Homo sapiens: one gene and its partner. The protein of the gene in region 1 purifies or fractionates together with the protein of each later gene. This does not show direct contact. Each region holds a gene or a part of one and is shown on either strand. Other genes may lie near its edges. The genes, in order: ACSL3 and WDR19.

Region 1 (3,827 bases):
GTGGGATATTTAGATGCAGATATATTGTGGACAGTGGTGTGTAAAAGTCTAGTACTCGAGTTATGTTTGGACTTAGAGATTTGGAAGCTAGAAGCAGTTAGGTTTTAATTATAGCTGTGGGAGTAGGGGGTGAGGTCACCAACAGGGAATGGTGGCTTCAGAGGCTACTAAGGACTAGTCAGAGAGGAAAGAAGAAAATATCTAGTAGTATGTGGTTCCTGGAAGCCAAGGGAAAGGAGATCTTGGTGAGTCATCAGCAGGATCAGGGGCTGCATGCAGAGGTCAGATGACACAAGGATTGTAATTTCCAAGAAGTGGTGGTGTTGGAGAAGGGTGCTGTGCATTGAAGGAGTGAAGGGCTGATTTGGAAGTAAAGACTTCCAAGTGTAAACATTATTTAAGAAATGTATCTTGACTGACAGGAGAGGAAGGGTATTCTATTGGGAGTACATTTAAATAATTTTTTCACACTCATTTAGAAGTTCACATGTAGAGTAGTTCTGGGAGTGGTTCAGACATATCAGCAATGCCAACCATGACCTATTTCTCTTTGTTCTTCTGCTGTGCCACCTCTATAGCTTCTCAGCTGTTGTCCTTAGGCTGGTACTCTTCTGATTTCAAATGGTTCACATCGTGTTTTAATGCAGGACTCTGAGTGTAACCAAGTTAGTCACCATTCTGAAGCAGTGAATAGTTTTTAGCAAACACCTAGATACTCTAGTCCAAAGCTACCTTTATTTCTTAGTTGAATTACTGGGATAATCTTGTCTCCCTGATACCTTTTTTCCCCTTGTAAAGTTAGTTAGCCACACAGCAGCCAAAGTGATCTTTTTTTTCACAGATAATAACATACTCCTGTTCAAAACAACATTGCTTTACATCCAGAACGTAATCCAGAGTTCTTCCCGTGGCCTTTGAGGTCCTATGTGTGGTCCCTGATAGCCACTTGACTATTGTTTCTTGCCACTCTTCCTCTTGCTCACTCTGTTCCAGCCACACTCCTTGCTGGTCTTTAGATATGCTGAGCACATTCCTACCTTTGGGTCTTTGCATTTGCTTATTTCCTTCTAATTAGAACACTCTTCTCCCAGTTCCAGGGTTTCCATGGCTCCCTTCCTCACTTTATTCAGGCCTTTGCTAAACGAAACTCTACAGAGACGGTCTCCAGGCTTTTCCATCCAAATAGCATCTATTGTCATCTTCTCACCTTGTCTTGCTTCAGTTTTCTTCATAGGTTAATCTGTTTGTATATCTCAATAGAATATATCTCCCATACGTGCAGGGACTTGATCTGTTTTGTTGATCTCAGTATAACTAATATTTGTTGAATTGAGTTAAATTAACTCAATTTGATTGAGTTATTTATTTGATGATAATGAAAAGAAATTGTTGATACAGCTGAATCTCATGAAAGTGTATGTGTGTGTTTTTTCTCTTCAATGCAGAAAACCAACCTCATAGCAAACCATTGCCCTCAGATATTGCAGTAATCATGTACACAAGTGGATCCACAGGACTTCCAAAGGGAGTCATGATCTCACATAGTAACATTATTGCTGGTATAACTGGGATGGCAGAAAGGATTCCAGAACTAGGGTATGTCATAGTAAAGTAACATTGAGTAGTTAAGTATTTATGTCTGTTATAATGTTAGCATTTGTGTCATTTTATTAATATATGGCTAAATTAGTCCCTCAGAGTCTGTTTGTAGTAGGCATTTCCTTAAAAAATAAAAAAGGACATTAAAATTAATGGCAAAATAGTTATAGTTGTGAGGTTGAAAATATATCATATAGATATATTTTAAAAAGTACAGAACTTAAATTTGTATAGTTGTAAATCCTTTGTTTTAATCAGCTTGTATTTGCTGCTGTAGTTTTTTTTATATCTAAATACAATTCAGGTGAACAGGTAACTTAATTTATCCACTAAGTATTTGTTGAGCTTCAGTATTTGGTCTCTGATTTTTCTTGTTAATACAAACTCCAGTGGTAGCAGTGGAAGGTAGAGTGGAGTGGGGAAGAGACTGATGGAGGAAACCAGATGGAAGTTTGAGGGACTGTCAAGGAAACATTGCCAGAGATGCAATTGGTATTCTGATGACCGATAGGGTACAGTGGTTGGATATTTTTGATGCTTTTATGCACAGAAATTACAAACATACACGCACACACACACTCACGTAATTGCTATGGTACTGAACTTGGGGATGGAGGAATGTCTCTTACGTATGCATACATTTCAGAAAAAATTAAGTGCAACAATTTTCTTACAGGTTTGCCTCAGTTACCTTCTATATTTTGGTTATGGGGGCAGCTCTTGAAGTATATACAAATACTTACACATTTTCTGTATATTAAGATCTAATTTATTATGTAATCCAATTCCCACAACAAGAGTCTTATCTGTAAAATTTCTGGCAGATAGTTGTGGATTCTACTTTAACTCTTCTGGTTGGCAACCCACTAGATGTAAAGACCATTTCCTCCTTGGATGATTTCTTCTGTTCTTCAAAAGAACCCTGTATTATTATTTGTTTAAGCCACTGTTTCTTGTGCCTCAGTACTTTGCTTCAGCAACGCTTATAATTCCTGAGTGCTTTTAAGTAGGACGGGAAACAGCATTCCTTCCTGCAAGTGTGCGCCTCCTTGCTTTTGGGTTGAGCTGTAATTCTTTTTCCCTCCCATCCCCAGCATCTGCCTATCCTCTGTTTTCACCTGTCTCTCTCTCTCTCTCACAAACACATACACACTTGACCAGCAAATTGATGCCCTGGGGCCCTTCCATGTGCCTTCAAGCTTGCTCCCATTATAGGGCACTTTTGGCATAGACGACACCTGACTTTTGTTTCTGACGTCTCCCTTTTCTTTTAGAGAGGAAGATGTCTACATTGGATATTTGCCTCTGGCCCATGTTCTAGAATTAAGTGCTGAGCTTGTCTGTCTTTCTCACGGATGCCGCATTGGTTACTCTTCACCACAGACTTTAGCAGATCAGGTAAGTTCAGTGTCTGTGACTTGAAATACTAAAAAATCATAGTGAATTGTAATGCATTTTTTTCAGTCAGTATGACAGTATATTGCGAGAGCGATGGTTCATTTTAAAATGAGCTTTAGCCTTTTAAGTGCTTCTTAGACTGTAAGTACATTAAAATAATTTATAATAGGCTTTTTGATCTAAGAATACCATTGAATTTTAAAAATAAGGATCACTTTATATGGATCACTTTTTCTTATTTTGTAGTCTTCAAAAATTAAAAAAGGAAGCAAAGGGGATACATCCATGTTGAAACCAACACTGATGGCAGCAGTTCCGGTAAGAAGTGACCCTTATTTAATATTGAGTATTAAAGAAGTATCACCCGCTACAAAGCATTAGTGCTAGTGAAAAATATATTGTTGACAAGGTAGTTTATGTAGGATTTATTCCTTATTGATTATAAATATTGCCTTAGGCGCTATGGGATTTCTTCAGTCTTGTTTTAGCTTGCTTTCTTATTTACTAAGCACTCAACTTAATTTCAGCTTCTGTGTGTAATTATCAACTTGTTTGCCTAAATACCTTCTTGTTAAAATAAAAATTATTTTCATGATATCTGTTGGTGAATTCATTGACACTTGAAGCCTATTGAGAGCTAGGAGGGAAAGTGTGAGATCACCTCCTTTTAAGCAAGCTGTATAGTTACCTCCTGAGTCCTCAGGGAAAGTCTGGCCTAAACACCAAACAAAGTGACAGAGAAGCTGGTGCAGCTTTGAATGACTTAAGAGGGGCTGTTCATCCTTACATAATATAGGGGCCTGGGAATAAGACAAGGGAAATGGGGCAGC
Region 2 (3,827 bases), on another chromosome or scaffold:
CATTCTCATTTTGAGAGTAGGATGAGGCAGATATTTTTCAGTTCCCTATTCAGGATATATACAAGCCTACCTGCCTGAGTTCACAGGACTTATATGGACTGATTTTTGTAAACAGCTTATTTAGTATAATATTACAGTCAGCCCACCCTATCTGTGGGTTCCTCATCCATGGATTCAGCCAACTGTAGATCAAAAATATTCAGGGGAAAAATGGATGGTTTTGTCTGTGCTAAACCTGTGCAGAAAACTTTTGTTGTCTATATTCCCCATACAGTATGACAACTATTTACATAGCATTTATATTGTATTAGGTATTATAAGTAATCTAGAGATGATTTAAAGTATAAGGGAGGGTGTACATAGTTTATACACATATTACACCATTTTATTCAGGGATTTGGCCATCTGTGGGTTTTGCTATCCGTGGGAGATCCTGGAACCAATCCCTCATGGATGTTGAGGGATGATTGTATATTTATATTTGTTGACATGCATTTTAGAGAAGCTTTTGAAATAAAGTATCCCTAGTGTAATTTACTTCAATCATGTGAGTTAATTTGTTTCTTAATACCCACTATTATCAAATACTCAGTATTATTGAAAAATTTCTAAACACAAGTACAAGTGTGTTCGTAGTTTAAATTTCTGTCATCCTGAGCAGCTTTAATTTTTTTTCCTTAACCTGAAGCTTTGTGTCTAGACTTGTGGGTTCTCCTACAAATTTGCCAGATTTTAGATCAAACCTTGGCTTTTCCAAATAACTATAGTTTTTTCAAGCCAGACCTAGGATAGGAATGGAAAAAGAAACTTTCTTTCCTGTTGTTGTTGGAGTGATGTTAGGTTGAATATGACTCAGTAAGCTAAGCCAGCTAAGGCTGCAAACAGGCTTCTACCACGGCAAATGATAATGATTCAAGTACAGACTTGGGGCAAATCTGTAAATTTTATTTTGTAGGTCAATGACGCTACCTATGAGATTCCAGATTTTTCACCAACCATTAAAGGTGTTCTTTGGGAAAACTGGCCAATGGATAAAGGTGTATTTATTGCTTATGATGATGATAAGGTGTACACTTATGTCTTTCACAAGGACACTATACAAGGTACTAAACCCCTTTTGTGTATATTCGCTGACAGATGAATTTCCCATTGCAGTAAAATTAAAACATTCTTTCTGATGTTTGTGCTGAGTATTAGCTTTCAGCATTGCGATGTCTGTTTTATAATGTAGGAGCCAAGGTTATTTTGGCTGGTAGCACCAAAGTTCCTTTTGCTCATAAACCTTTGCTGCTATATAATGGAGAGCTGACCTGCCAAACACAGAGTGGAAAAGTAAACAACATCTACCTTAGCACCCATGGCTTTCTCAGCAACTTAAAAGATACGGGGCCTGACGAACTGAGACCAATGCTGGCACAGAATTTAATGCTAAAGAGGTAGGCTTTCACACACTTCTTTTGGAACTTCTCATTTGCTTTTGTGATTTTAAAGGTCAAATCCTATAATTATTCTATCTTATTTTATTGCTTTATTCTTTATCCTTGCAAGAATTTTTTTTTTTTTTGTAAATGTAGAAGTACAAGTGCAGTTGTGCTACATGGATATAGTGCATATGGTGAAGTCTGGGCTTTTAATGTACCCATCACCAGAATAGTGAACACTGTACCCAGTGGGTAGTATTTTATCCCTCAACCCTGTCTCACCATCCCGCCTTTTGGAGTTGCCAGTATCTATTATTCCACCTGTATGTCCATGTGTACCCATTGTTTACCTCCCACTTCTAAGTGAGAACATGCAGTTTTTGACTTTGGGGCATTTCACTTAGGATAATGACCTCGAATTCCATCCATATTGCTGCAAAAGACATGATTTCATTTTTTTAATGGCTGAGTAGTATTCCATAGTGTGTATATCTATATATACACACCACTTTTTAAAATCCAGTCATCTGTTGATGGACACTTAAGTTGATTCCATGACTTTGCTATTGTGAATAGTGCTGCAGTAAACATATGAGTGCAGGTGTCTTTTTGATAAAATGTCAAATCCTATTCAATAGATGGAGATAACAGCACTTACCTTGTTCATTTCACAGGGATATTGTGAGGCTCAGATAAGATAGTCAGCTGTTTTTATTATGAGTACTTTATTACAAGAAAAGCCCTTAAGAACAAAACGGTTTCTAAGCTTCCAGAGAGCCTAGTTATTGGGAAATCCTAATAAAATAAACCTAATTATTTCAACAATATCTTGACTTCATCATAGTGAGGTTTGATTTTGCTTTGCTTATAATTTCCTTTTACTGTTTTTTTCTCTTATCTCCTAGAGCCACCGTGAATTCCTTTGACGTTCTAATTCTTCCGAGCCTCTCTTAAATGCTGCTGTTTATTGGGGTCTCATGAGTTTCCTTCTCTTCTTACTCTAATTATTCTTCCTGAGTGAATCTCCTCTGCTTAACATGGCTCAACATACCACCCATATGAAGCTGACTCTAAAATCTGTGTCTTTATCTTAAACCTGTACTTACAACTACCTTCCAGTCATGTGTCCTTGGAAGTCCATGAGCTCTTCAAACTTGCCCTTTCTAAAACTGAACTCATCAATTTCCACAGGCCCCTATTTTCCCTCACTGTAATCACACATGCACATGCCTTAACACACATATACACCAGCTCCTTTCCTCCTCCCGTGTTCCCTCATCTTTACCCAGGCCCTCACCTGGAATAATGTGTAATGTAACTAACCACTTCCTAACTGCTCTGTCTGCCAATAGCCTTGTAACGATCTCATCTGTTCTCCACACACTTTTGAAGATGTGATTTGATCCTCTTATTTCCCTGCTCAGGATCCTTCAGTGACTTTCTATTGCCTTTACAAACAAATCCATTCCTGGGGGACCTCTATGACCTACTAGGCACTTCATGATTTAACACCAGCTCAACTGTCTCCACTCAAGTCCCTCTCTGTTCCACTGGCTGCTGAAATTGCATATATTTCATGATTCTTCCTGGAATGCCCTTTCCCTGCTCTGAATGTAGTAACCCCTCTTTCTTTACCCATCAGCGATAAGTGGAGCCATCTCCTGCTCCAGGAAGCCTTCCCCGACTTCCCCACCACCACAGGCAGTCCTGCTTGGGGTCTTTCTGATGTGTTGCCTCAGAGCCAGGATGCAGTATACACAGTGGTGAAGAGCATGACACCACTTACCTCTGTGTGCCTTGGGCTAGTCTTTTGACGTCTCTAAGCCTCATTTTCCTAATCTATAAAGGAGACATAATAATAATACTTAGTGGGTAGGGTTATTAGGGTAAGAGAATTTATGCAAAAGACTTAGCACAAAGAGTTACCTATTGTAAGTACTCAGTTACCTCTGTCAAACTATGCTATAGTCATTTGTTTCCTTATCTGTCTCTTCCACCTTCCCCAATTGTGACTGCCTTAAGGACAGCAACTGTGGTTGATTTTTGTATCATGTTTCCAAGCATGTAACGAGTTCAGTAAATGTGTGTTGGATGAAAAAATGGATAGGTGAATAGATAAATGGATGAATGAATAGATAGATGGATGTAATATATTCACTCATGTAGAGGTTCCACAAAAAGTTTAATTGGCATTTATGTTCATGTTTTAAACCAGAGGTCGGAAAACCTTTTGTGTTAAGGTCCAAATGGCAAATATTTCAAGCTTTACGGGCCATAGGGTCTCTATCGCAGCTACTCAGTCTGGCTGTTGTAGCAGGAAAGTGGCCACAGACAATCCATTAAAGAGTGGGCTGGGCCGGGGACGGTGGCTCACACCTGTAATCCCAGCACTCTGGGAGGCCGAGG

What was found.
Region 2: the proteins of ACSL3 (region 1) and WDR19 purify together in Homo sapiens (affinity purification with mass spectrometry; one large-scale study listed by BioGRID and IntAct). This does not show direct contact.

The regions. Positions count from the first base shown.
Region 1 is NC_000002.12:222,919,835-222,923,661, forward strand, and holds part of ACSL3 (fatty acid CoA ligase Acsl3), read left to right. Parts: intron 1-1,445; coding exon 1,446-1,596; intron 1,597-2,873; coding exon 2,874-2,997; intron 2,998-3,243; coding exon 3,244-3,315; intron 3,316-3,827. UniProt on the Homo sapiens protein: Acyl-CoA synthetases (ACSL) activates long-chain fatty acids for both synthesis of cellular lipids, and degradation via beta-oxidation.
Region 2 is NC_000004.12:39,227,255-39,231,081, forward strand, and holds part of WDR19 (WD repeat-containing protein 19), read left to right. Parts: intron 1-955; coding exon 956-1,103; intron 1,104-1,231; coding exon 1,232-1,436; intron 1,437-3,827. UniProt on the Homo sapiens protein: As component of the IFT complex A (IFT-A), a complex required for retrograde ciliary transport and entry into cilia of G protein-coupled receptors (GPCRs), it is involved in cilia function and/or assembly.